Regions from separate parts of the Homo sapiens genome. Here regions 1, 3, 4 and 5 are each linked to region 2. Evidence: fine-mapped expression QTL. A gene starts in region 2. Each other region holds a variant in brackets. All regions are shown on one strand. Distances are between the middles of the regions. Region 1 has its middle 49 kb from the start of DENND4C. Region 2 holds the start of DENND4C (DENN domain containing 4C). Region 3 has its middle 26 kb from the start of DENND4C. Region 4 overlaps DENND4C (DENN domain containing 4C). Region 5 overlaps DENND4C (DENN domain containing 4C).

The links. PIP is the estimated chance that this variant, and not a neighbour inherited with it, causes the effect.
Region 1: its variant is fine-mapped to the expression of DENND4C in esophagus mucosa (GTEx, PIP 0.93).
Region 3: its variant is fine-mapped to the expression of DENND4C in thyroid (GTEx, PIP above 0.99).
Region 4: its variant is fine-mapped to the expression of DENND4C in whole blood (INTERVAL, PIP 0.93).
Region 5: its variant is fine-mapped to the expression of DENND4C in nasal epithelium (TOPMed, PIP 0.92).

Annotation. Positions count from the first base shown.
Region 1 is chr9:19,178,870-19,183,974 of GRCh38, reverse strand. No RefSeq gene overlaps it. Among named protein-coding and RNA genes, the nearest start is that of DENND4C, 49 kb to the left of the region's middle. The variant A/G (reference allele first, on the strand shown) is at 2,736.
Region 2 is chr9:19,228,051-19,233,138 of GRCh38, reverse strand. It overlaps DENND4C (DENN domain containing 4C), which reads right to left and starts at 2,446. Exons shown (of 33, transcript NM_001330640.2): 1 at 2,306-2,446. RefSeq lists silencers at 1,899-2,038, 2,259-2,628, 2,709-3,008 and enhancers at 1,642-2,147, 2,148-2,654, 3,039-3,288.
Region 3 is chr9:19,202,120-19,207,224 of GRCh38, reverse strand. No RefSeq gene overlaps it. Among named protein-coding and RNA genes, the nearest start is that of DENND4C, 26 kb to the left of the region's middle. RefSeq lists an enhancer at 4,261-4,779. The variant A/G (reference allele first, on the strand shown) is at 2,196.
Region 4 is chr9:19,255,716-19,260,820 of GRCh38, reverse strand. All of the region lies in intron 1 of DENND4C (DENN domain containing 4C), which reads right to left. Among named protein-coding and RNA genes, the nearest start is that of DENND4C, 28 kb to the right of the region's middle. The variant T/C (reference allele first, on the strand shown) is at 2,636.
Region 5 is chr9:19,288,960-19,294,064 of GRCh38, reverse strand. It overlaps DENND4C (DENN domain containing 4C), which reads right to left. Exons shown (of 33, transcript NM_001330640.2): 5 at 3,189-3,361. Among named protein-coding and RNA genes, the nearest start is that of DENND4C, 61 kb to the right of the region's middle. The variant G/T (reference allele first, on the strand shown) is at 2,962.

The DNA of each region.
Region 1 (5,105 bases), 49 kb after region 2:
ACTGCAACCTCCCACTCCTGGGTTCAAGCGATTCTCCTGCCTCAGCCTCCCAAGTAGCTGGGATTACAGGCACGCGCCATCACACCTGGCTAATTTTTGTATTTTTGGTAGAGATGGGGTTTCACCATATTGGCCAGGCTGGTCTCAACTCCTGATCTCAAGTGATCCACCCGCCTTGGCCTCCCATAATGCTAGGATTACAGGGGTGAGCCATCACATGTAGCACCAATCTCTAGATTTCAAGAGACCACATATTGTCACAGCTTCTTGGAGATTTTCTTCACTGGATTTAAGTCATTGTTCTCCAAAGTGTGTTCTGAGAGCTACCTACATTTGAATCATCTAGATTAAGGTATCATCATCTCTACTAAAGGACCTTGTAATCTGTGTTTTTTTTTTTTGAGATGAAGTCTCCCTCTATTGCCCAGGCTGGAGTGCAATGGTGCAATCTTGGCTTACTGGCAACCTCCGCCTCCAGGGTTCAAGCAATTATCTGCCTCAGCCTCCCGAATAGCTGGGATTACTGGCACCCGCCACCACACCCAGCTAATTTTTGTATTTTTAGTAGACATGGGGTTTCACCATCTTGGTCAGGCTGGCCTTGAACTCCTGACCTTGTGATCCACCCACCTCGGCCTCCCAAAGTGGTGGGATTACAGGCGTGAGCCACTGCGCCCGGCCCGGAATCTGTTTTTAACAAGCACTACAACTCCCCAGAATTCTTTTTTTTTTTTTTTTTTTGAGATGGAGTCCCTCTCTGTGGCCCAGGCTGGAGTGCAGTGGCGTGATCTCGGCTTACTGCAACCTCCAGCTCCTGGGTTCAAGCAATTTTCCTGCCTCAGCCTCCCGAGTAGCTGGGGTTACAGGCGCCCACCACCACGCTGGCTAATTTTTTGCGTGTATTTTTAGTAGAGACAGGGTTTCACCATCTTGGACAGGCTGGTCTTGAACTAACCTCATGATCCACCTGCCTCGGCCTCCCAAAGTGCTGGGATTACAGGTGTGAGCCACCGCACCGGGCCAAAATTTATTTTTTTGCACAAAATTAACTTAGCTAAATCAGAGTTCACAAGCCTTCACTGGTAATGTGACCCACAGGAGAGAGTCCTGGGGCAGAGGAGGAGTCTTGTTTATGCCTTTCCTGTTTCCATTCCTGTACTCCCTGTCCCTGCCAAAATGCCATTTCTGATAGTGTTGGTCACTGCAGAAGGAAACAGGAAAAAACAGGAAGGAACTGAGGAAACTTCAGTGTTCCCTCTTGATTACAGTAGTGTGGGAAACAGGCCTGGGTTTAGAAAGCAATGCAGCAGAATGCTTAAAAATCATTCACAAAGCTTGGTAAAACCACAGACTCCCCTTCTCCCCATTCTAATTAAGTGGGTATGCGGTGGGGCCTCAGAACCTATATTTGTAAAAATACCTACAGTGATTCTAATGCAGGTTGATCTGGGGGTACATCAGGATATTTCTTATTTAATGTACTGGAGCCCAGAGCTAGAAGTCCCCTTTGACAGCTGTCTTCAAACTGTCGGCACAAAGACCTAAAGTAATTTTACAATATAAAGACATCTGGGTTCTCTAACTGTCACAGGGCAACTCCCCAAACTGGGGATCAGCCCAGGAGGCCATAAGGGTTCTTGACTTTTGGCAGAAAAGAATTAAGGAGGCCATGGTGGCTAATGCCTGTAATCCCAACACTTTGGGAGGCTGAGGCAGGTGGATTGCCTCAGGTCAGGAGTTCGAGAACAGTCTGGCCAACATGGTGAAACCCCATCTCTACTAAAAATACAAAAAAATTAACTGGGTGTGGTGGCATGCACCTGTAATCCCAGCTACTCGGGAGGCTGAGGTAGGGGAATTGCTTGAACCAGGGAGGTGGAGGTTGCAGTGAGCGGAGATCATGCCACTGCACTCTAGCCTGGACAACAGAGCAAGACTCTGTCTCAAAAAAAAAAAAAAAAACAGGAGCAAGTGGACCGAATAAAGTGAAAGCCAGTTTATTAAAAAGTAAAGGAATGAAACAGTGGCTACCCCATAGACAGAGTAGAAGCACGGACTGCTGGACTAACTATAGTTATGGTTATTTCTTGATTACATGCTGAAAAGGGGGTGGATTATTCATGTTTTCTTGGAATGGGGTGGGGAGTTCCCCAGAACTGAGGGTCCTCCCCATCTCCTACTCTATAGGGTAACTTAGGGACGTTGCCATAACATTTGTAAACTTTCATGGTGCCAGTGGGAGTGTCTTTCAGGGCGCTGATAATGCATTAGAATTAGCATATAATGAGCAATGAGAATGACCAGAGGTCACGTTCTGTTTTTTTTTTTTTTTTTTTTTTTTTGAGACAGTCTTGTTCTGTCACCCAGGCTGGAGTGCAGTGGCGAGATCTCAGCTCACTTGCAACCTCTGCCTCTCAGGTTCAAGCGATTCTCCTGCCTCAGCCTTCTGAGTAGCTGGGAATACAGGTGCCCGCCACCAGGCCCAGCTAATTTTCGTATTATTAGTAGAGACGGGGTTTTACCATGTTGGTCAGGCTGGTCTCGAACTCCTGACCTCGTGATCCACCCACCTCGGCCTCCCAAAGTGCTAGGATTACAGGCGTGAACCACTGCGCACGTCCTCCAGAGGTCACTTTCTTTGCCATCTTGATTTTGATTTTGGGAGGGAGCTGGCTAACTGTTTTGTTTTTTTGTTTTGTTTTGTTTTTATGTTGCCAGGCTGTTCTTGAACTCCT[A/G]GCCTCAAGCGATCCTCACACCTTGGCTTCTCAAGTGCTGAGATTACAGGCATGAGCCACCACACCCAGCCCTTGGCTGGGTTCTTTACTGCACCCTGTTTTATAAGCAGGGTCTTTGTGACCTACGTCTTGTGAAACAAGTCCTGCCAAATTCCTATCTTATAACTAGCCAGCATTTAGTTTTAGTATATTCTGTGTTTGCCTTAAGATAGTATGTACATTTTCCCCTAGAGCAGCAAAAAAGAAAAGGATAGTGTATATTTTGTATTTCAAAGAAATACTGGGGCTGGGTGCTGTGGCTGACATCTGTAATCCCAGTACTTTGGGAGGCTGAGATGGGTGAATCACCTGAGGTCAGGAGTTTGAGACCAGCCTGGCCAATATGGCCAAACATTTTTTCTAGTCTCTGCTAAAAAAAAAAAAATTAGCCAGGCAAGGTGGCGCCTGCCTATAATCCCAGCTACTCAGGAAGCTGAGGCAGGAGAATTGCTGGAACCCAGGAGGCAGAGGATGCAGTGAGTCGAGATGGCGCCACTACACTCCAGCCTGAGCGACAGAGCGAGACTCCATCTCAAAAAAAAAAAAAAAAATACTGGCTAACATCTCTACAAATAAATGAACCATTTGATAGGAACATTACTTTCATATGATTCCATTAAAAATATAAACTTTGGCTGGGCATTGCGGTTCATGCCTGTAATCAATCCCAGCACTTTGGGAGGCCAAGGCAGGTGGATCACCTGAGGTGAGGAGTTCGAGAGCAGCCTAGCCAACATGGTGAAACCCTGTCTGTACTAAAAATATAAAAAATTAGCCAGGCATGGTGGCACACACCTGTAATCCCAGCTACTCAGGAAGCTGAAGCAGGAGAATTGCTTGAACACAGGAGGCAGAAGTTGCAGTGAGCCGAGACCCCACCACTGTACTTCAGCCTGGGTAAGAAGAGCAAAACTTTGTTTAAAAAAAAAAAAATTAGCTGGGTGTGGTGGCACACACCTGTAATCCTAACTATTTGGGAGGCTGAGGCATGAGAATCACTTGAACCTGGGAGGCAGAGATTGCAGTGAGCTGAGATTGTGCCATTGCATGCTAGCTTGGGCAACAGCAAGACTCTTGTTTAAAAAAAAAAAAAAAAATCATGGTGGCTTGTCAAGTTTTGGAAATTTCTCCTTAATGGTTTTTCCTAACATATTGCTTTTAGTATGTCATTCTGTCACTGCTTTCCTCAAAATCTTCAGTGGGACTTCACTGCCTACTTATTAATTTCCGTCGGCTAGTGTTTGAGGCCTTATGACTTTATCAGTCCACCTTGCCAGCCTCACTTTTTTGTTTTGTTTTGTTTGAGACAGAGTCACACTCTGTCACCCAGGCTGGAGTACTTTGGCACAATCTCGGCTCACTGCAACCTCCACCTCCCAGGTTCAAGCGATTCTCCTGCCTCAGCCTCCCAAGTAGCTGGGACTACAGGTGCCCACCACCATGCCTGGCTAATTTTTTTTTTTTTTTTTGTATTTTTTGTAGTGTCAGGGTTTCACCATGATGGCCAGACTGGTCTCGAACTCCTGACCTCAGGTGATCCGCCATCTCGGCCTCTCAAAGTACTGGGATTAAAGACATGAGCCGCAGTGCCCAGCCAAATTGATTCTTTTATTTTTTATTTTTATTTTTATTTATTTATTTGTTGAGGTGGAGTTTTGCTCTTGTTGCCAAGGCTGGAGTGCAATGGCATGATCTCAGTTCACTACAACCTCTGCCTCCCTGGTTCAAGCGATTCTCCTGCCTCAGCCTCCTGAGTAGCTGGGATTACAGGCGCCCGCCACAGCCGGGCTAATTTTTTGTATTTTTAGTAGAGACAGGGTTTCACCATGTTGGCCAGGCTGGTCTTGAACTCCTGACCTCAGGTGATCCACCCGCCTTGGCCTCCCAAAGTGCTGGGATTACAGGCATGAGCCACCATGCCTGGCCTATTTATTTATTTTTTGAGACAGAGTTTCACTTTTGTTGCCCAGGTTGGAGTGCAATGGTGCAATCTCAGCTCATTGCAACCTCTGCCTCCCATGTTTAAGTGATTCTCCTGCCTCAGCCTCCTGCTTTTAGAAAGCATTTTACAGGAGAACGGGCGCAGTGGCTAATGCCGGTAATCCCAGCACTTTGGGAAGTTGGAGGCAGGCAGATTGCTTGAGCTCAGGGGCTCAGGACTTTCCTGGGCAATATGGTGAGACCCCATCTCTACTAAAGATTGTTTTTAAATAGCTGAGTGTTGTGGCGAGGGCCTCTAGTCCTAACTACTCAGAGGCTGAGGCGAAAGGATGCTTGAGCCTGGGAGGTCGAGGCTGCAGTGAGCCGTGATCGCACCACTGCACTCCCGCC
Region 2 (5,088 bases):
TGCCACTGACTCAGCAACTTTCTTTTTTACTTTACAACCTGTACTTAAGGTGCAAGCATATGACTGAAACCTAGCTTTCAATTTTTCTTTTTTTTTTTTTTAATCAGGCAGCCTCCAGAACCAGAGTAGGCTCTAAGAGATTCCCCTAGCTTTCAAACTGAGCAGCAAAGCCAATGCAAAACCAGTATTTGTTTTGGCAGGAAGCTCCAGTGAAAATATGAGATGTTTTGGTCTTAACTGGCAGATACACAAAGAGCAAAGAAAGGTGCCTTATTGAGTTATTATTTATAATGTAAAATCCCTTGTGTATAGCTACAAATCCACTTTTATTGCAGATACTTAATATGTTTCTTTATAGAAAGTAGCTCAACCAAATAATCTCCCAAATTTGGCACCAGGAATTGTTACAGCCTACACACCACTACAGTTCCTTGTAATTTAAAACATTTGCGTTTTAAGAATAGTCTCCACACTCCAACTATGCTGCCAATTTCTTCAGCTAAAAGCTTAAGTTTATACTACAAAATACTGTATTTACTCTCGACAATAGAATGCACTCATTTACAAAGCATACAGGACTAAATTACTCCAATATGCAACTTCAAAATTTCTCCAATATACAACGACAACATTTCTAACATCATAGCTTTTCTATTACCCAAATCAGTAAGTCTAAATAGTAGTACTGTACACTGCACGAGGTACTATTGGCCAAAGTCAAGTCGCATATGATCAGTTCACTACAACAGGTTATACAAAAGATCAGACCCCTAATCTCAATAAACTATTTTGCAAAATGGTCAACGGAGATACCAATGCGGAGGAAAGTGTGGATTGAGTGGCAGAAAACCCTTTGCCACTACTGAAAAAAAAAACAAGTCAAAGCAAGCCTATATGACAGGCAGATCATGTTCATGAATACAAATCTAACTTCATTGCCGACTTCCCAGTCTCACAGCAAGACGGCAGTTTACCAACTCTTTAACAGTAATACAAAGAACAGGACAGAAAATATAGTTTCTTTTTTGCATGCTATAGTGATCAAGAATAAAGGATACCTTTAATGTTCAAAGATGAAAACTTCCTTTTGCAACTAATATTGCTCTTATCGCGTGTACACAGAAAAATCATACAACGCTCTGCATTTCTGATAGAGTAATACACACTATCACATCAAATCAAGTATTTATCCAGAACTTAGCGCCTTAGCACTAACGTTCTCCCCTCTCATTATACACAGACCGGAAGGGAAAACCTATTCCTACGTAAATTAGGGCCTAGGAAGAACGCCTCAACACGGGTTTGCACACAATTAAGCAGGCTCAGTGGGTCAATTTCTCAGGCTACAACGCTTGACAGTATCTCGGAGGCACAAAGAGACAGCTGAGGGTTCACTACTGGAAATGACACTTTCCCTCAAATTTGCACAAGTACCCGCGGTAACTACCCTAAATTTTCCCGTGTGACAAACATACATAAGGGGAGAAGGAGGCGGTACTATTTAAAAACTGGGTAATTCCTTATTAGTGCAGATAAAAGACGGTCTTCGAGAGGGAAAAGGTCTATCAAGCAGAAAAGGGGAGGAAAAAAAAAAAGACGTGACAGCATTCTTAAAACAGAAAAAGTTACAGCTCTTTACAGGAGTCAGCCTTAGGACTTCATTCCTTGGTTTTGTGTTTAGTCACTCCAGAGTTAAAAGGATACTGCCCTCCTAGAAAGTCATCCCCGACAAAGAAGCCCTGAGGATCGGCCACCGTAAGACAGAGAAGGAAATGTCTTCAATTCACCAGAGACACCTGCCCAGGTCCCCCTCCTCCCCGTTGTCCCCGACACTTCTCAGTCCCCCGACTCCTCTCGAGACTGCCCGCCACCCCTGGCTCTAGCTCTCCGCTCTCTCAGCCTCGACCCCCTCTGGGAAGCCCCGATCCTGCTCCCTCCGCACCCCGGCCCCCACCAAAGCGGCCGTCGCCCCGGCGGTCCCCCGGGCCCAGACCCCTCGCGCTTGTACGCAAACGATTCTCATGGGCCCGGCGGGCGACGCGGGGAGGCTCTTCAGGGGCAGCCTTTCCCCGACTGCATCCCGCAGGATCCGGGGACTCCCCGCCCCCGGAAACCGCGGAGAAACTAGGCCACGAACGCCAGCCGCGGCCACTCTCCGCCTCCTCGGCGACCCCCCGCGGGCCAGCCACTCGGAACTCAGCCCTCCGGGCTCTACCTGTCCCGCGCCCTCCCAGCCTTGCAGCGCAGGCCCCGCGAGGGCACGGCGCAGGCTTCCTCCGCCAAAGGCCCCGCGCCGCAGCCTCACCTGCTGCCTGCTCCTCTGTCAGCGCAGCCCCGACACGGCTTCTTCCTGGGGCAAGAAAGCACCGGATTCGCGGACTGGGCGCGCTCGGCAGGGCAGGGCGGGGGACTAGCTCCAGCGGCCGCCGCCGCCTCAGTCCGGTCTGCGCCTGCGCCGCCTCGCGGGCAGGGTCTCCGAGGGGCGCCGCCTACAGCCAGGGGCGATGGCCGGAGCGCTGGCCCGCGCGGGTGCCTCCGCGCTGTGAGCCGTCGGACAGTGCGGGCGGCGCGTCGCCTAGGAGCTGCCCGCGGCGCAGCCGTCCCAAGACCTGACCGCCATGTTTCTGTTCCCTTTTTCTCCCCCGCCTTCCGCCCCTTTCCACAAAACAGCACTTTCTTTTCCCCCTCCCTCTCCCTTTCCTCCTGCGGGGGCGGGTGGAAAAGGGCGGGGGGTGGGAGGGAGAAGACGCAGGGAGGAGGGGGGCGGTGCGGTGCTCAGGCCCCTCCCCCGGGGAGGGCCGAGGCCCTGCAGCCACCGCTCCCCTCCCCCGCCCGACCCCTGTGCGACCCCCGCGGGGCGCGGGGTCTGAGCCTTGCGGGCCTCCGATCCCCTCCTCAGCGTTCGCGCGGCCGAGCCTGCAGAAACAGAGCTGGGGAGAAAGCGCTCTGGAGGCCGCTGTGCACCCCTTCCTGCAGGGCTCAGACTGGCGGTGTGATGTGGGTTTATTGCCTTGGCCTGAGGCAGGTGGCGGCTGCTTCTCTCGGAGTTTTCAAAGACAGGGAAAGTGATGCCGAGTGGCTGAAGGTCACTGAGGACAGTGCCGGGAGATACGTGAAGATTCCTTCCCAGGGAAGGAATCTGGAATTCCCACGCATGAGTAGAGGGCTCTAGAGAGACCCGCGCGCTGGCCCTTCCCGAAACCCCTTGGCTCCAGTGCACCATGTGAGTCCCTGGCCGCGCTCGGTGTCTCTCCTTCGGCCCAGATTTGGGGATGGGAATTCCTAATGGAGAAATCGCTCATTTGCATAGTCAGTACCCTCACGCCTCCTAAGTGTAGCCTCATTATCGACACAGACGCCTGCAGAGTCGTTTCTCTATAATGCAAATTTTGCAGGATATTTTTGAACAACGTTTTTGAGTTATCATAGTAAATGAAAAAGCAATTACTAGTTATTTAGGAAGAAGGAAATGGTTTGAAGTAGAGATAACTTTTTTACCTCTGGGGGGAAAAAAAGGCGAATGACTTCAGATTCCATGGCAGGTCAAAATCAGAACTGGTAAGATTTCTGCATATCTGGTGAGTATCCACATAAATAATCATTTTCCTGAAAATTACACTCTCCTTATTTAATCTGTATTTTTGCATAAAAATGTGAGATTATACCTGGGTCATAAATGCACTGCTGTCCATTTATTTCTGAAGTTTATTGCATAGCCATGGATAATTTGAGTTTTATATTCAATAGCAGAAACTATTTTTCTAACCACGTAAGCAGTCAGAATTGATTTCAGAAGAAATGCGCAGCAATAAAAGTTAAGGCTTATTTAATAACAGTTTGGGGCCAATTTGGTCCCCCTGGAAACTATCTTTGACATTGACAATCCGAAGAGCAAAAGTTTAAGAAAGGATCTAATACTTCAAAATTTAGCTTGTGGGCCGGACGCGGTGGTTCACGTCTGTAATCCCAGCACTTTGGGAGGCTGAGGCGGGCGGATCACCTGAGGTCGAGAGTTCCAGACCAGCCTGACCAACATGGAGAAACACTGTCTCTACTAAAAATACAAAATTAGCCGGGCGTGGTGGTGCATGCCTGTAATCCCAGCTACTCGGGAGGCTAAGGCAGGAGAATGGCTTGAACCTGGGAGGCGGAGGTTGCAGAGAGCCGAGATTGCGCCATTGCACTCCAGCCTGGGCAACAAGAGCAAAACTCTGCCTCAGAAAAAAAAAAAAAAAGAAAAAAAAGAAAAGAAACAGTGAAACAAAATTTAGCTTGTGGGCTTCTTTTCCTTCTTTCCCAAAGTCTAAATTAATTAGCAGTTTTAAAGCAATATAAACGAGATTTCTTTCTTTATTTACATATATATTTTTTAATTTTTCCTCATCCCAACTAGAAAAGGAAAGACAAGATTTCTTCGCCCCCTCCTTTTTTTTGGACACAGGATCCCCCCCTCTGTCACCCAGGCTGGAGTGCAGTGGCACAAACAGGGTTCACTGCAGCCTTAACTTCCTGCCACCTCAGCCTCCCGAATAGCTGAGATGGTAGGCCTGTGCCAACCACCCACCCACACCCCACTAATTTTTTGGGGGGGTTAGGGGAAGATATAAAGTCTCACTATATTGCCCAGGCTAGTCTTGAACACCTGAACTCAAGCAATCCTATTACCTCAGCCTCCCAAAACTCTGGGATTACAGATATGAGGCACCGTGCCCAACCAAGACAAGATTTCTTAATGGGTACATTCATTTAATTAGCTCTCAGGGATTCAGAGTTTTTTTTTTTCTCTCTCTCTCTCTTTTTTTATGGCACCCACAGAAATGAAAAATGGATGAGGCCAGTATCTCTCTTCCACTTGACTTGATTTTTCTCACTTTGCAATGGAAGGCTTAGGATTTTCTTTAATTTTTCTCACTATCTTAATCGTCCTATAGATTTACCATAGATTTTTCACTGCCATTTTCCACCAAAAATTTCATAGAATGAACTTGAATGTTTTGGGACTAATTTTTCATGTGAGTTAACTGTTCTCAGATCTGGAAGTTCTTGATTCAGCAACCTTCCCAACTGCATGCTTAGGGGCCCAGAACT
Region 3 (5,105 bases), 26 kb after region 2:
TTTCAGAAACTATGCCGGGCACAGTGGCTCACACTTGTAATCCCAGCTCTTTGCAGGCTGAGGCAAGAGTGTGGCTTGAGCTCAGGAGTTTGAGGCCACAGTGAGCTATGATCATGCCACTGCACTCCAGCTTAGGTGACAGAGCAAGACCCTTTCTGTAAAAATAAAAAGTATTTGAGAAACTGGAACAGATAAGACAGACCAATATTACGCTCAAGTTTTCCTCATATTATGGTAAAGTTGAAATTATTGAACTAGGCTGGGCATAGTGGCTAACACCTGTAACCCTAAGAACTTTGCAAGACTAAGGCAGGAGGATTGCTTGAGCCCAGGAGTTCAAGGCCAGCCTGGGCAGCATAGTGATAATCTGTCCCTAAAAAAAAATAATAATAACCATACCTGGCCAACATCGTGAAACCATGTCTCTACTAAAATACAAAAATTAGCTGGGTTTTTTGGTGCATGCCTGTAATCCCAACTACTTGGGAGGTTAAGGCAGAAGAATCACTTGAACCCGGGAGGCAGAGGTTGGAGTGAGCTGAGATTGCCCCACTGCACTCCAGCCTGGGTGACAGAGTGAAACTTCTTTTCTGAAACTGTCTCAAAAAAATAAAAATTAAAAGGCCAGGCGCGGTGGCCTACGCCTGTAATCCCAGCATTTTGGGAGGCCAAGGCGGGCAGATCACAAGGTCAGGAGATCGAGACCATCCTGGCTAATATGGTGAAACCACATCTCTACTAAAAATATAAAAAATTAGCCAGGTGTGGTGGCAGGCGCCTGTAGTCCCAGCTACTCGGGAGGCTGAGGCAGGAGAATGGCGTGAACCCAGGAGGCGGAGGTTGCAGTGAGCCGAGATCGAGCCACTGCACTCCAGCCTGGGCGACAGAGCGAGACTCCATCTCAAAATAAATAAAATTAAATTAAAATTAAAAAATAAATATTAAAATTCAATGTAAAACAATTAAGTTATGATGATAAACATCATACGATATCAACTCACACAAGATTCATGGTCCTTTTCAATGTCAGGTAAATTCATCCTTGATTTCATGAAAATCCAGGGATTAAAGCAGAGTAGTTTCATCTAAGTGCAGCTAATGTCTATTCCATTTTCAGGTATGTCCGTGGAGAACATACCTGAAAATGATATGTTCATGGAGAATCAACTTGCCTTTCATTCACTTCAACTTGTCTTTCATTCAAATATTCAGATATTTCATTTCAGATATTTCCTGAGCCATATGTTAGGTGCATGCCAAATTCATGCTGGGGATATTGTGTTGAACAAACCAGGCATGGTTCCTGCCCTCACGGAGTTTACAGCCTAGTGTGGTCCTAGCATACCGCCATGCCAATAATGTGCAGTTGTTTTTCTTTTTTTCCAGAAGGATCTCACTCTGTTGCCTACGCTAGAGTGCAGTGGTGCAATCATAGCTCACTGCAGCCTCCAACTGCTCGCTCAAGCAATCCTCTTACCTCAGCCTCCCAAGTAGCTGGGACTACAGGCATGTGCCACCATAATCAGCTGATTTTTTAAAAATTTTTTTGTAGAAACAGGACCTCACTTTGTTTTCTGGGATGGTCTTTTATTATTATTATTATTATTATTGTTTTTTTTTTTTTTTTTGAGATGGAGTCTTGCTCTGTTGCCAGGCTGGAGTGCAATGGCGTGATCTCGGCTCACTGCAGTCTCCACCTCCTGGGTTCAAGCGATTCCCCTGCCTCAGCCTCCCAAGTAGCTGGGATTAAAGGTGCATGCCACCATGCCCGGCTAATTTTTTTTTTGTATTTTAGTAGAGACGGGGTTTCACCATGTTGGCCAGGATGGCCTCGATCTCCTGACCTCATGATCCACCTGCCTCGGCCTCCCAAAGTGCTGGGATTATGGGCGTGAGCCACCGCGCCCAGCCTTTGGGCTGGTCTTGAACTCAGGGCCTGAAGTGATCCTCTTACCTCCCCTCCCAAAGTGTTGGGATTACAGGTGTGAGTAACCATGCCTGGACCTTTTTTTTTTTTTTTTTTTTTTTTTTTTAAGATACAGGTAGGGCCAGGGCTGGGCCCAGTGGCTCACTTCTATAATCCCAGCTATTTGGGAAGCCCAGGAGGGTGGATGGCTTGGGCTCAGGAATTCGAGACCAGCCCAGGCAACATGGCAAAACTCCATCTCTACTAAAACTACAAAAATTAGCCAGGC[A/G]TGGTGGCCTGTACCTGTAGTCCCAGCCATTCAGGAAGCTAAGGTAGTAGGATCACTTGAGCCTAGGAGGCGGAGGTTGCAGTGAGCCAAGATCATGCCACTGCACTCCAGCCTGGGTGCAGAGCCAGACTCTGTCTCACGAAAAAATAAAAATAAAAAAAATAAGGAGGCTGGGCACGGTGGCTCACTCCTGTAATCTCAGCACTTTGGGAGGCCAAGGTGGGCCGATCACTTGAGTCCGGGAGTTCAAGACCAGCCTTGAAGACCAGCCTGGGCAACATGGTAAAACCCTGTATCTACTAAAAAATAAATAATATTAATAAATAAAATAAAATAAAGATATAATTAACAGCTAGGCGCAGTGGCTCAGGCCTGTAATTCCAGCACTGTGGGAGGCCAAGGCAGGAAAATCTCTTGAAGCCAGGACTTGGAGACCAGCCTGAGCAACATGGTGAGACTCCATCTCTACCAAAAATATACAGAAATTAGGCGGGCATGGTGGCATGGCACTTGTGGTGCCAGCTACTCTGGAGACTGAAGTGAAGGATCGCTTGAGCCCTGGAGGTGGAGATTGCAGTAAGTGGAGATTGCACCACTGCACTGCACTGCACCACTGCACTGTTGTCTGAGCAACAGAGGGAGACCCTCTTTAAAAAAAAATGCTGGAACTCATAGATACAATGGATTGAGTGCTCAGGGTTTTCCCTAATCACTAGGTAAAACCAGCATGGTTGATGTCTTTGTGAAGGTACTTTTCCAGCTACACCCAAGCTTTAATGCACAGGCAATCACCAGGAATCTTGGTAAAATGCAGACTGTGATCAGTAGGTGTGTGTTGGATCTGAGATTTTGCGTTTCTTTTCTTTCTTTCTCTCTTTCTTTCTTTCTTTCTCTTTCTTTCTTTCTTTTTTTGATGGAGTCTCGCTCTTGCACCCAGGCTGGAGTGCAGTGGCGCAATCTCGGCTCACTGCAAGCTCTGCCTCCCGGGTTCACACCATTCTCCTGCCTCAGCCTCCTGCGTAGCTGGGACTGCAGGCGCCTGCCACCGTGCCTGGCTAATTTTTTGTATTTTTAGTAGAGACGGGGTTTCACCATGTTAGCCAGGATGGTCTCGATCTCCTGACCTCGTGATCCGCCCACCTTGGCCTCTCAAAGTGCTGGGGTTACAGGCGTGAGCCACCACGCCTGGCCTCTTTCTTTTTTTGAGAAGTAGTCTCACTCTGTCACCCAGGCTGGAGTGCAGTGGCACCATCTTGGCTCACTGCAACCTCCGTCTCCTGGGTTCAAGCAATTATCCTGCCTCAGCCTCCTGAGTAGCTGGGATTACAGGTGTGCGCCACCATGCCCGGCTAATGTTTTTTGTATTTTGAGTAGAGATGGGGTTTCGTGATGTTGGCAAGGCTGGTCTTGAACTCTTGACCTCAGGTGATCCACCCACCTTGGCCTTCCAAAGTGCTGGAATTACAGACATTAGCCACCACGCCTGGCCAGATTTTGCATTTCTAATAAACTCACAGATGCTGCCTGTGCTGATGGTCCACTGATCCCATTTTGAGTGCAAGGAGTTAGACTATGTCATCAGGAGAATATCAGCTGAGGCTCCTTCAGGTGTTTCTGTGTGAGGGCTGTCCTGTCCTCCATATAGTATATAGCTTCTCCCCACCTTGGCCAGCACAATCTCTGTTCCACCCAGCCCCCAGCTCTTTAACAGGTTTTACACACACACACACACGCCCGCATGCGCACACACACATATGTATTTTGTTTGTTTTTGAGACAGGGTCTTGCTCTGTCGTCAGGCTGGAGTGCAGTGGTGTGATCACAGCTCACTGCAGTCTCAACCTCCCAGGATCAAACCATCCTCCCACCTCAGCCTCCCGAGGAGCTGGGACTAGAGGTGCATGCCACTATGCCTAGCTAATTTTTGTTTTGTTTTGTTTTTGAGAAGGAGCTTCACTCTTTTTGCCCAGGCTGGAGTACAATGGTGCAATCTCAGCTCAATGCAACCTCCACCTCCTGGGTTCAAGCGATTCTCTCTGCCTCAGCCTCCCAAGTAGCTGGGATTAAAGGCGCCTGCCACCACGCCCGGCTAATTTTTTGTATTTTTAGTAGAGATGGAGTTTCACCATGTTGGCCAGGCCAGTCTCGAACTCCTGACCTCACGTGATCCTACCCGCCTCGGCCTCCCAAAGTGCTGGGGTTACAGGCCTGAGCCACCGTGCCCAGCTGTGCCCAGCTAATTTTTAAATTGTTTGGACAGACAGATGCAGGGGGGCGGGTCTCCCTATGTTGCCTAGGCTGGTCTCTAGCTCCTGGCTTCAAGCCTCACTGTGGCTCCCAAAGTGCTGGGATTACAGGCAGGAGCCATTGTGCCCCGCCTTCAACGGGTTTCTTGTTCTGAGATCTGAGGGTGTTTGCCGGACCCACAGCTGCCTGACCCAGGGCCTGTTTCCTATCTCAGGAGGGGCCTTTGTGCTACTTCTCCTTGAGATGCTACTCCCTCCCATCCCCCAGGAAGTGATATATGGCCTCTCCTCCCTTTTGCAGGGATACTTGGCAACCAGACCCTTTGTGTATTTATGGCCCATTAACAAACTTTATCTAAGAGATAAGAAAGATCGTGAAAACCAGCTGCCCTTTGTTCAGATCATTTCACTTTGAAATAAGACTTACCCCTCTCTATTTTTAGTCTGCTGTTTATTTTGTAGGTTTGGATAAGGTGATTATAGCCCAAGGCTTGTTTTGATCTTTGTTCCTTAAGCTCTGGGGTGATTGGTAAACATTTTAGAAGCCAGTGGCTACTAGCTTTTATTTTAGCTTTTTCAGGATCATAGAATTGTAGACTTCGACCGTAGAAAAGGGCTTTCAAGGAGTTGTAGCTTAGCCCCCTTTATCTGACAAATAGGAAAC
Region 4 (5,105 bases), 28 kb before region 2:
CACATCAAGTTAAAATGCTTCTGCACAGCAAAGGAAACAATCAACAAAGTGAAGAGACAACCTACAGATGGGAGAAAATATTTGCAAACTATCCATTTGATAAGGTATTAATAACCAGAACATAGGCCGAGCATGGTTGCTTACACCTGTAATTACAGCACTTTGGGAGACCAAGGCGGGTGGATCACCTAGGTGAGGAGTTCAAGACCAGCCTGGCCAACATAATGAAACCCCGTCTCTACTAAAAATACAAAAATTAGCCGGGTGTGATGGCACACACCTGTAGATCCAGCTACTCGGGAGGCTGAGGTGGGAGAACTGCTTGAACCCAGGAGGTGGAGGTTGCAGTAAGCCGAGATCATGCCACCCCATTCCAGCCTGGGTGACACAGCAAGATTCCATCTCAAAAATAACATAACATAACATAACATAACATAACATAACATAACCAGAACATATAAGGACATCAAACAACTCTACAGGAAAAAAATCTAATAATCCAGTTTTAAAAACAGGCAAAATATCTGAATAGGTTTTTCTCAAAAGAAGACATATGAATGTCAAACAGGTATACGAAAAGGTGCTCTACATCACTGGTCATCAGAGAAATGCATCAAAATTTCTTTGATCAAAACTAAAATGAGATATCATCTCACACCAGTTAAAATGGCTTAGGTCCAAAAGACAGGCAATAACAAATGCTGGCAAGGATATGAAGAAAAGGGAACCCTCATACACTGTTAGTGGGAACACAAACTAGTATGGTAACTATGGAGAATAGTATAGAGGTTCCTCAAAAAATTAGAAACAGAACTATCATACAATCCAGCAATCCCCTATGATAGATATATACCAAAAAGAAAGGAAATCAGTACATCAAAGAAATACTGACACTCCCATGTTTATTGCAGCACTATTCACAATAGCCAAGATTTGGAAGGAACCTAAGTTGCTTCAACTTAGCAACCCTAAGTTATTCAACAACAGACAAATGGATAAAGAAAATGTGGCATTCGAGCCAGGCGTGGTGGCTGACGCCTGTAATCCCAGCATTGTGGGAGGCCGAGGCGGGCGGATCACCTGAGGTCAGGAGTTTGAGACCAGCCTGACCAACATGGAGAAACTCCGTCTCTACTAAAAATACAAAATTAGCCAGGAGTGGTGGGACATGCCTGTAATCCCAGCTACTCGGGAGGCTAAGGCAGGAGAAATCGCTTGAACCTGGGAGGCGGAGGCTGCAGTGAGCCAAGATCGCGCCACTGCACTCCAGCCTGGGCAACAAGAGCAAAACTCCATCTCAAAAAAAAAAAAAAAAGAAAAAAGAAAAGAAAATATGGTATATATACCCAACGGAGTACTATTCAGCCATAAAAAAGAGCAAGATTGTGTCATTTAGAACAACATAGATAGAACTGGAGGTCATTATATTAAGTAAAGTAAGCCAGGCACAGAAACACAAACTTCACGTTTTCACTTCACTTACTCATTTGTGGGAGCTACAACTTAAAACAATTAAACTAATGGAAACAGAAAATAGAATAATAGCTATCAGACGCTGCAAAGGGCAGTGGGGAGGTGGCGGGGGCGGAATGGAGACGGTTAATGCATACAAAAATAGGGTTAGAATGAATAAGATCTAGTATTTGATAGCACAACAGGATGACTACAGTCAACAATAATTTATTGTATATTTTAAAATAACTAAAAGTACCATTGGAATGTTCGAACAAAGAAATGATAAACACTTGAAGTGATGGATACTCCATTTACCCTGATGTGAACACACACTGTATGCCTGTATCAAAATATCTCATGTATCCCATAAATATATACACCTACTATGTACCCATAAAAACTTAAAATTTAGGCCAGGCAGGGTGGCTCACACCTGTAATCCCAGCACTTTGGGAGGCCGAGGCAGGCAAATCACCTGAGGTCAGGAGTTCAAGACCAGCCTGGCCAACATGGTGAAACCCCGTCTCTAATAAAAATACAAAAATTAGCTGGGCCTGGTGGCGTGCACCTGTAGTCCCAGCTACTCTGGAGGCTGAGGCAGGAGAATCTCCTGAACCCAGAAGGCAGAGGCTGCAGTGAGCCGAGATCACGCCACTGCACTCCAACCTGGAAACAGAGCAAGAATCTGTCTTTAAAAAAAAAAACTTAAAATTTAAAGAAAATAGAATGGATATTAGAATTTATCAAGCACTTTTTCTGCATCTACTGAGATCATTATGGCTTTTCTTTTATTTGTTAATATGGTAAATTACATTGATTTTCAAGTTATAGATCAATCCTGAATTTCTGGCATAAACCCCACTTGGGTCATGATCTGTCATCCTTTTTATATGTTCTTGAATTCTATTTGCTACAATTTTGTGTGAAATTTTATATATGTTAACGAGGAATACTGGCATATAGTTTTCCTGTAATATCTTTGGTTCTGGTATCAAGATAATGCTAACATGACAGAACAAGTTGGGAAAAATTTCCTCCTCTTCAATTTTCTGGAAAAGGTTGTAGAGAAATGGTGTTATTTCTTCCTTAAACGTCTGATAGAATTTGCCTGTGAAATTACATGAGTCTGGATCTTTATGCGGGTAGATTTTTAAACTATGATTTCAATTCCTTTAACACA[T/C]ACGAGGCTATTTGGCTTGCCTATTTCTTCTTGATTGATAGATAGATAGATTGATTGATTGATTTTTTGAGACAGGGTCTTACTCTGTTGCCCAGGCTGGAGTGCAGTGACACAATGACAGCTCACTGCAGTCTCAACCTCCCAGGCTCAAGTGTTCCTCCCACCTCAGCATCTCAAGTAGCTGGTACCGTGGACATGAACCACCACATCCAGTTAATTTATTTTTCTGGAGATGAGGTCTCACCATGTTTCCCAGGCTGGTCTAAAACTCCTGGGCTCAAGCGATTCTCCCCCTCCCAAAGTGCTGGGATTACAGGAATGAGCCACCTTGCCCAGCCCCTATTTCTTCCTGAATAAACTTTTGTAGTTTGTGTCTTTCAAGGAATTTGTCATTCCATCTAAGTTGTCAAATTTATTGGCATAAAGTTGTTCATAATATTCTATTACTATCCATTTAGTGTCTTTAGAATATGTAGTGATGTCACCTCTCTAATTCTGATATCAGTAATTTGTATCTTCTCTTTTATGTCTGATCAGCCTGGTTAGAAGTTTAACCATTTTAAAAATCACATTTGGTTTCATTGATTTTTCTCTTGCTTTTCTGTTTCATATTTCTTTGAATTTTACTTTGATCTTTATTATTTTCTTTTCTCTGCTTATGTAGAGTTTAATTTGCTCTTCTTTTTCAAGTTTTTTAAGGTGGAAGCTGAAGTCAATGATTTGAGATCTTTTCTAATTTAGTTATTTAGTGCTACAAATCATTTCCTAAGCAATGTTTTAGTGGTACCCCACAAATCTAGATATGTTGTGTTTTCTTTTTTTTTTTTTTTGAGACAGAGTGTCACTCTGTCACCTAGGCTGGAGTGTAGTGATGTGATCTTGGATCACTGCAACCTCCGCCTCCTGGGTTTAAGCGATTCTCACACCTCAGCCTCCTGAGTAGCTGGGATTACAGGTGCAAGCCACCGCACCCGGCCTTCTTTTTATTCTGTTCAGAATATTTTTTTATAGCCGTTTTCTTTTTTAAACTTTAATTCTTTTTTCCTTTTTTTCCTTTTCTTCACTCTGTTTTCTGAAACCTCACCTGGATCAAAATATATTTCCTTTTTTTTTTTTGAGACGGAGTCTCACTCTGTCGCCCAGGCTGGAGTACAGTGGCGTGATCTCGGCTCACTGCAACCTCCGCCTCCCAGGTTCACACCATTCTCCTGCCTCAGCCTCCTGAGTAGCTGGGACTGCAGGCGCCTGCCACCACGCCCGGCTAATTTTTTGTATTTTTAGTAGCAACAGGGTTTCACCATGTTAGCCAGGATGGTCTCGATCTCCAGACCTCGTGATCCACCTGCCTCGGCCTCCCAAAGTGCTGGGATTTCAGGCGTGAGCCACTGCACCCGGCCTTGTTTTATTTCCTTTTTTAAAAAATATTTTCTTTGCCCAATAGATAATTTTAAAGTATTTTTTCTCGGATGAGGTTTCTTACTAAAAAACTACAAATTAAAATAAAAAATAACATAAAAAAGACACAGATTTAATTTTAAAGAGTAAAAAAATAAAATTTAAAGAAAAGCAAGTGCCAGGCGTGGTGGCTCTCGCCTGTAATCCCAGCACTTTGGAAGGCTGAGGCGGGCAGATCACCTGAGGTTGGGAGCTCGTGACCAGCCTAACCAACACAGAGAAACCTCTCTCTTCTAAAAGTACAAAATTAGCCGGGTGTGGTGGCGCATGCCTGTAATCCCAGCTACTCGGGAGGCTGCGACAGGAGAATCGCTTGAACTCAGGAGGTGGAGATGGCAGTGAGCAGTGAGCAGAGATTGCGCCCTTGCACTCCAGCCTGGGCAACAAGAGCGAAACTCCATCTCAAAAAAAAAAAAAAAAACAAAAAAAAAAACAGAAAAGAAAAAAAAGAAAAATTTTTTTAAAAATAAAGTATGTTTTTCAGTTTCCAAATTCAGTACTTGGGAATTTTCCAAGAATCTTTCTGTTACTGATTTCTAACTTAAATGCCTTATGGTCAGAGAATGTACTTTGTATAACCCAAATTCTTTCATAGTTATCAAGACTTGTTTTATGGCTAAGAATCTGGTCTTTTTTTTTTTTTCATTTATTTTTTTGCAGAGACAGGGTCTTGCTATGTTGCCCAGCCTGGTCTTGAACTCCTGGCCTCAAGCAATCCTCCCACCCTGGCCTCCCAAAGTGCTGGGATTACAGGAGTTAAGACACCATGCTCAGCCTGAATGTGGTCTGTCTTGATGAATATTCCATGTGCACTTTAGCAGAATGTCTCTCTGTTGTTGCACAGAGGGCTCTATAAATCAAGTCAAGTAAATAGTGTTGTAACAAGTCTACTACATCCTTGATGGTTTTCTGTCCACTTGTGCTATCAACTAGTACGAGAATGGCATTAAAATCTCTGACTAAAATTATGGATTTGTCTTTTTCTCCTTTCAGTCTATCAGTTTTTGCTTCATGT
Region 5 (5,105 bases), 61 kb before region 2:
AGGCATCTCAAACCAATATTTTCAAAAGTGAGCTCATCATCTAAACACTTCATCCAATATTCCTAATCTTACTCAGTCATGCTACACAATTCCCAAGGTAGAAACTTCGAAGTCATGTTCAATTCCACTTCCACTTACCACATATCAAAGCAACTACTGAAGCCCTAACTGGTCTCAAGTCAGAAGAGAAAGTATTTTAGTGAAAAATACACTGAAGAAACAGTCCTTCAGAGGTAATATCTCATCCTTCAAAAGTTCCCCATTACAGGTAAAATGCCACAGTCCGTGTAAGTGGCATGATGCTCTCAATTCCTCACAGTACCTGCTGTTGCTTTTCAACAATACAGAGCTACCAGGCATATAGACTAGTTCATAATTTTGTGCTTTTATGTATTTTGTTTAGCCTTGGTACTTCCTCTGATCTGCCCATTCCTTAAAACACTGCAAAGAAATTCTATCACTATACCCATCCCCTTCTCCCAGCAATCAATCCTTACCTCTGTGTTTTATAAATCTTGCCAACTGTTTAGTCATTATATATATCACAGGAACCCTTGCCTTTACACACACATTCCCAGATACAATTATTTCAAAGTGATCTCAAAGTTTTTAACCCATCCCCTTCTCCCAACAATCAATCCTTACTTCTGTATTTTATAAATCTTGCCAACTGTTTTTTCATTATAACCCTTGCCTTTATACACACAATATTCCCAGATATAATTATTTCAAAGTGATCTCAAAGTTTTTAACAAGCAATGACAAATACCTAAATTTTACACACCTCAATGCTTACATGTTGATATCCCCTAAACAATGAAAAAGCCAAGCAGATCACCTAGTACCCACATCTCAAATGAGACTTTATTGTTCTCTACTGCCAAAGCATATTAGGTAACTAATGTTTGAAGATCTTAAAATTTTCAGTTATATTTACTACTTTCAGCAGGAGAAATTGTAAATGATTATTAAGCTAACAAGTTAGTAGTGGGCAATCAAGTTAATATAATATTGACCTTCACTCAGTATTTTCTATGTTCCAGGCACTATGCTGGATACTTTACATATATTATCTTTATCACAGTAGTTATAAAGGTGTAGCCTGTACCTGTAGAATGAGGTCACAGATGTATTTTGTTTCATCTGCATGAGTCAGTTCAGATTATATATTTTTTCAATAAAATCGCCTATTAAATTTCCTTAGAAAGTTTTCAATTTTTGCTGGGCGCATTGGCTGACACCTGTAATCCCAGCATTTTGGGAGGCTGAGGCAGGTGGATCACCTGAGGTCAGGAGTTCGAGACCAGCCTGGCCAACATGGTGAAACCCCATCTCAACTAAAAATACAAAAATTAGCCGGGCGTGGTGGCAGGTGCCTGTAATCCCAGCTACTCGGGGAGCCAAGGCAGGAGAATCGCTTGAACCCGGGAGGCGGAGGTTGCAGTGAGCCCAGATTGTGCCATTGCACTCCAGCCTGGGGGATAAGAGTGAGGTTTCGTCTCAAAAAAAAAAAAAAAAGAAAAGAAAGTTTTCAATTTTGAAATTTCTACTGCTATCAGCTTTTTATACTGAATATTGTTTATTTTTGCCTTCTCTTCTTTATAAATCAGTTTATGTCATTATTACTGTTATATACAATATATGTTTTACATAAGACAATAAATGTCTTTTCTCTCTAGTTGTTTTGTCTCCGGTGTTCCATGATAGCACCATGATATAATAAGAGGCGGGATAGGCCAGGCATGGTGCCTCATACCTGTATAATCCAGGACTTTGGGAGGCTGAGGCAGGTGGATCACTTTAGGTCAGGAGTTTGAGACCAGCCTGACCAACAGGGTGAAATCCTGTCTCTACTAAAAAAAAAAAATACAAAATTAGCTGGGCGTGGTGACGCACACCTGTAATCCCACTGCTTAAGAGGCTGAGGCAGGAGAATCACTTGAACCTGGTAGGTGGAGGTTGCAGTGAGCCGAGATCGCACCACTGCACTCCAGCCTGGGCAACAAGAGTGACATTCCGTCTCAAAAAAAAAAGAGGTGGGATTATTTATTTATTTACTTATTTGTTTATTTTTCTCTGCTGCAGATTCAGAGTACATCTTTAACCTGAAGACTCAATTTTTTCATCAACCTTGGAAAACTCTCAACCATTAGCTCTTAGGATGTAGCCTTGTCCTTTTCTAGTCTCTCCTTCAGTAACTCATTAAATATCTATTAGACCTTCTAGTTCTATCTGCTACATTTTAAAACTCCTTTTATGTTTTACATTTGTATGTACCACATTTAAGGTAACCTATCTTCCACTTCATTAATTATCCCTTCATGTATGTCTTATCTCTGCTATTTTTTTTTTTTTTTTTTTAGAAAGAGTATCGCTCTGTAGCCTAGGCTGGAGTGCAATGGTGCAGTCTCAGCTCATTGCAACCTCTGTCTCCCGGGTTCAAGCAATTCTCATGCCTCACCCTCCCGAGTAGCCAGGATTACAGGCGTGTACCACCAAGCCTGGCTAATTTTTTGTATTTTCAGTAGAGACGGAGTTGTGCTATGTTGCCCAGGCTGGCCTTGAACTCCTGGCCTGAAGTGATCCACCTGTCTCAGCCTCCCAAAGTGCTGGAATTGCAGGCGTGAGCCACCGCACCTGGCCTTATCTCTGCTGTTTAACCCATTCACTGAATTTTTAATTTTAAGGACCATATTTTTCATTTCTAAACACTTGATTCTTTTCCCAATCTATTCATTTTTCAAAATATCCTGTTCCTTCCTTGATATTTTGAGCCCCTCCATTAGTTCTTAGGTCATCTCAATGATATTTTAATTTATAACATCCTTTATATTGTCATTCTGTCATTTCAATGTCTTGAGGGTCTAACCCTGCTTTTTAATTGTGTCTGTCGATTCTTTCTATGGTACCTATGTCCTTGATCTGTCATAATCATCTCATCTTGACACCTGGGTTTTGAAG[G/T]TGTCTATCCAGAGAGACTTTATCTTTGCTTCTGTAGAAGTTCCAGAGGTATCAATATCCTGATAGCAATTTTCATGTTGATTTCTCACCTTGGGGATGACAGTGTAAATTTAAACCAAAATGTATCATGTCCAAATAATCCTAACATTCAAATAAAACTTGTATTAACCTTTTTATGAAATAAAAACATGGACAAAATGTGTTTAATCAATGAGACAAAAACATACCTTTTTGGCTGAAGAACCTGTCAAGACAAAAGTTGAAAAAACTGGAAGTGGATATTTGGTTTCAGGATCCCAGCACTCAATAGTAGCTCCCATAGGAAGGCAGAAAAGAGGTACATCTGATTCTGAGAGTGGAAATGACTCATAGTCCTCTTCTGGATATCTAAAAATTAAACCTTTTGAAGAATGAGACAACAATAAATTTTTTAAATAGTTACTTTTCCATAAATTGCATATGATAGGTATTAATGGAATATTTTAATGCCGAATTTCATGGCAATACTTGTGTGGTATTTTAAAATTGATTTCCCCCTTGCTATAACAGAAACTAAAATAAGTTTACCCCTGATATTTTACCCATGAATTTACAGTTCATTGTAACATTTAAAATGTATTAATATACTAGTTGAGATTCCATTCAACCAATCTTGATCACCAATCTTAATGTATTTTCTTCTACACATGCCAACACCTTGTGGAAAATGGTAAGAAACATACAGAAAAATTTACCAACTATTTCAGTTAGTCTTCTGTGAAAAATTCAGGGAAGAGACAAGTGTTATGAAATAATGCTGAGGCAACAGAAATTATCACAGCCCCTAAACTCATCTTAAGAGGGAAGCAGTGTAAAAGGCATGCAACATGAAAAGTAAATGAGACAGAAACACTGTGACTAAGTACAGAGTATGTGAGACCCAGAAAGTAGGAGCAAGTGACACTTTGAGAACCACAATGAAGACCCACAGAATAAATTAGCTACATGGCATCTGTTCATTAGCCTCTAAGGTCATCAATATATAGACCATCTCTAAGTGAAAAACTTCAAAATCAGTAGTAGAATTTTGAGCCCAAATTCAGTATCTAAAACTCTCTATTCTAAAATAAGTGTCTCATATCAAATAACTGAATACTTTGGTACAGTTTCTTTCTATAAGTTTTTTAAGTGATATCTTTTCTCCACCAAAAACAACAACAACAACAAAAAAAGGACATCACACATAATCAACATATTACAGCAGTATTAACAGTATCACTTTTTTTTTTTTTTTTTGAGACAGGATCTTGCTTTGTCACCCAGGCTGGAGTGCAGTGGTGTGATCTCGGCTCACTGCAACCTCCGCCTCCTGGGTTCAAGCGATTCTCGTGCCTCAGCCTCCCAAGTAGCTGGGACTACAGATGCGTGCCACCACGCCTGGCTAATTTTTGTATTTTTAGTAGAGACGGGGTTTCACCATGTTGGCCAGGCTGGTCTCAAACTCCTGGCCTCAAGCGATCTGCCCGCCTCACTCTCCCAAAGTGCTGGAATTACAGGCGTGAGCCACCATGCCCAGCCTACAGTATCAGATTTTAAAATGATACTGAATTTTATACGTTAGTCGTTGCCATTATTTTTATATTATAAATTAAATGGTTTGGTTCATTAGTATGAATGTTTTTATGAAAATCACGATTTTTTGGATATGAATTTGCCTGACTTCCCTGAAGTAAAACTTTATTTCAAGAACTGTGCATAATCAAATAGTAATTAGCACTGCTTCTTTTCACAAAGAAGTATTCCAGTATCTTTTCTATTTACAACTGGAGCATACCTGTATTTTCAGTTTTTATCCCACCATACCAGTGGAATGAAGACGTGACACTTAAATCTTTACAGCCCTTGACACTTTAATGTGCAGTAAGAATGTGGCGATAGATTTCTCAAACACTTCATGGCAGAAAAGTTTCTCAGGCCCTCCTCTCCTCCATATAGCTGATTCTTTGCAACAAAGGAGAAAGGAAGCAAGTCCACCTTTCATGGCAAGTAACATGTGGTTTCAAATCAGACACAAAGAGATAAGAGAAGGAAATATAAGAAGTAAAGACGCAGTTTGACACCTTTCTGATTGCCAAAATATAAAAGGTCAGAGAGTCAGCAACTTT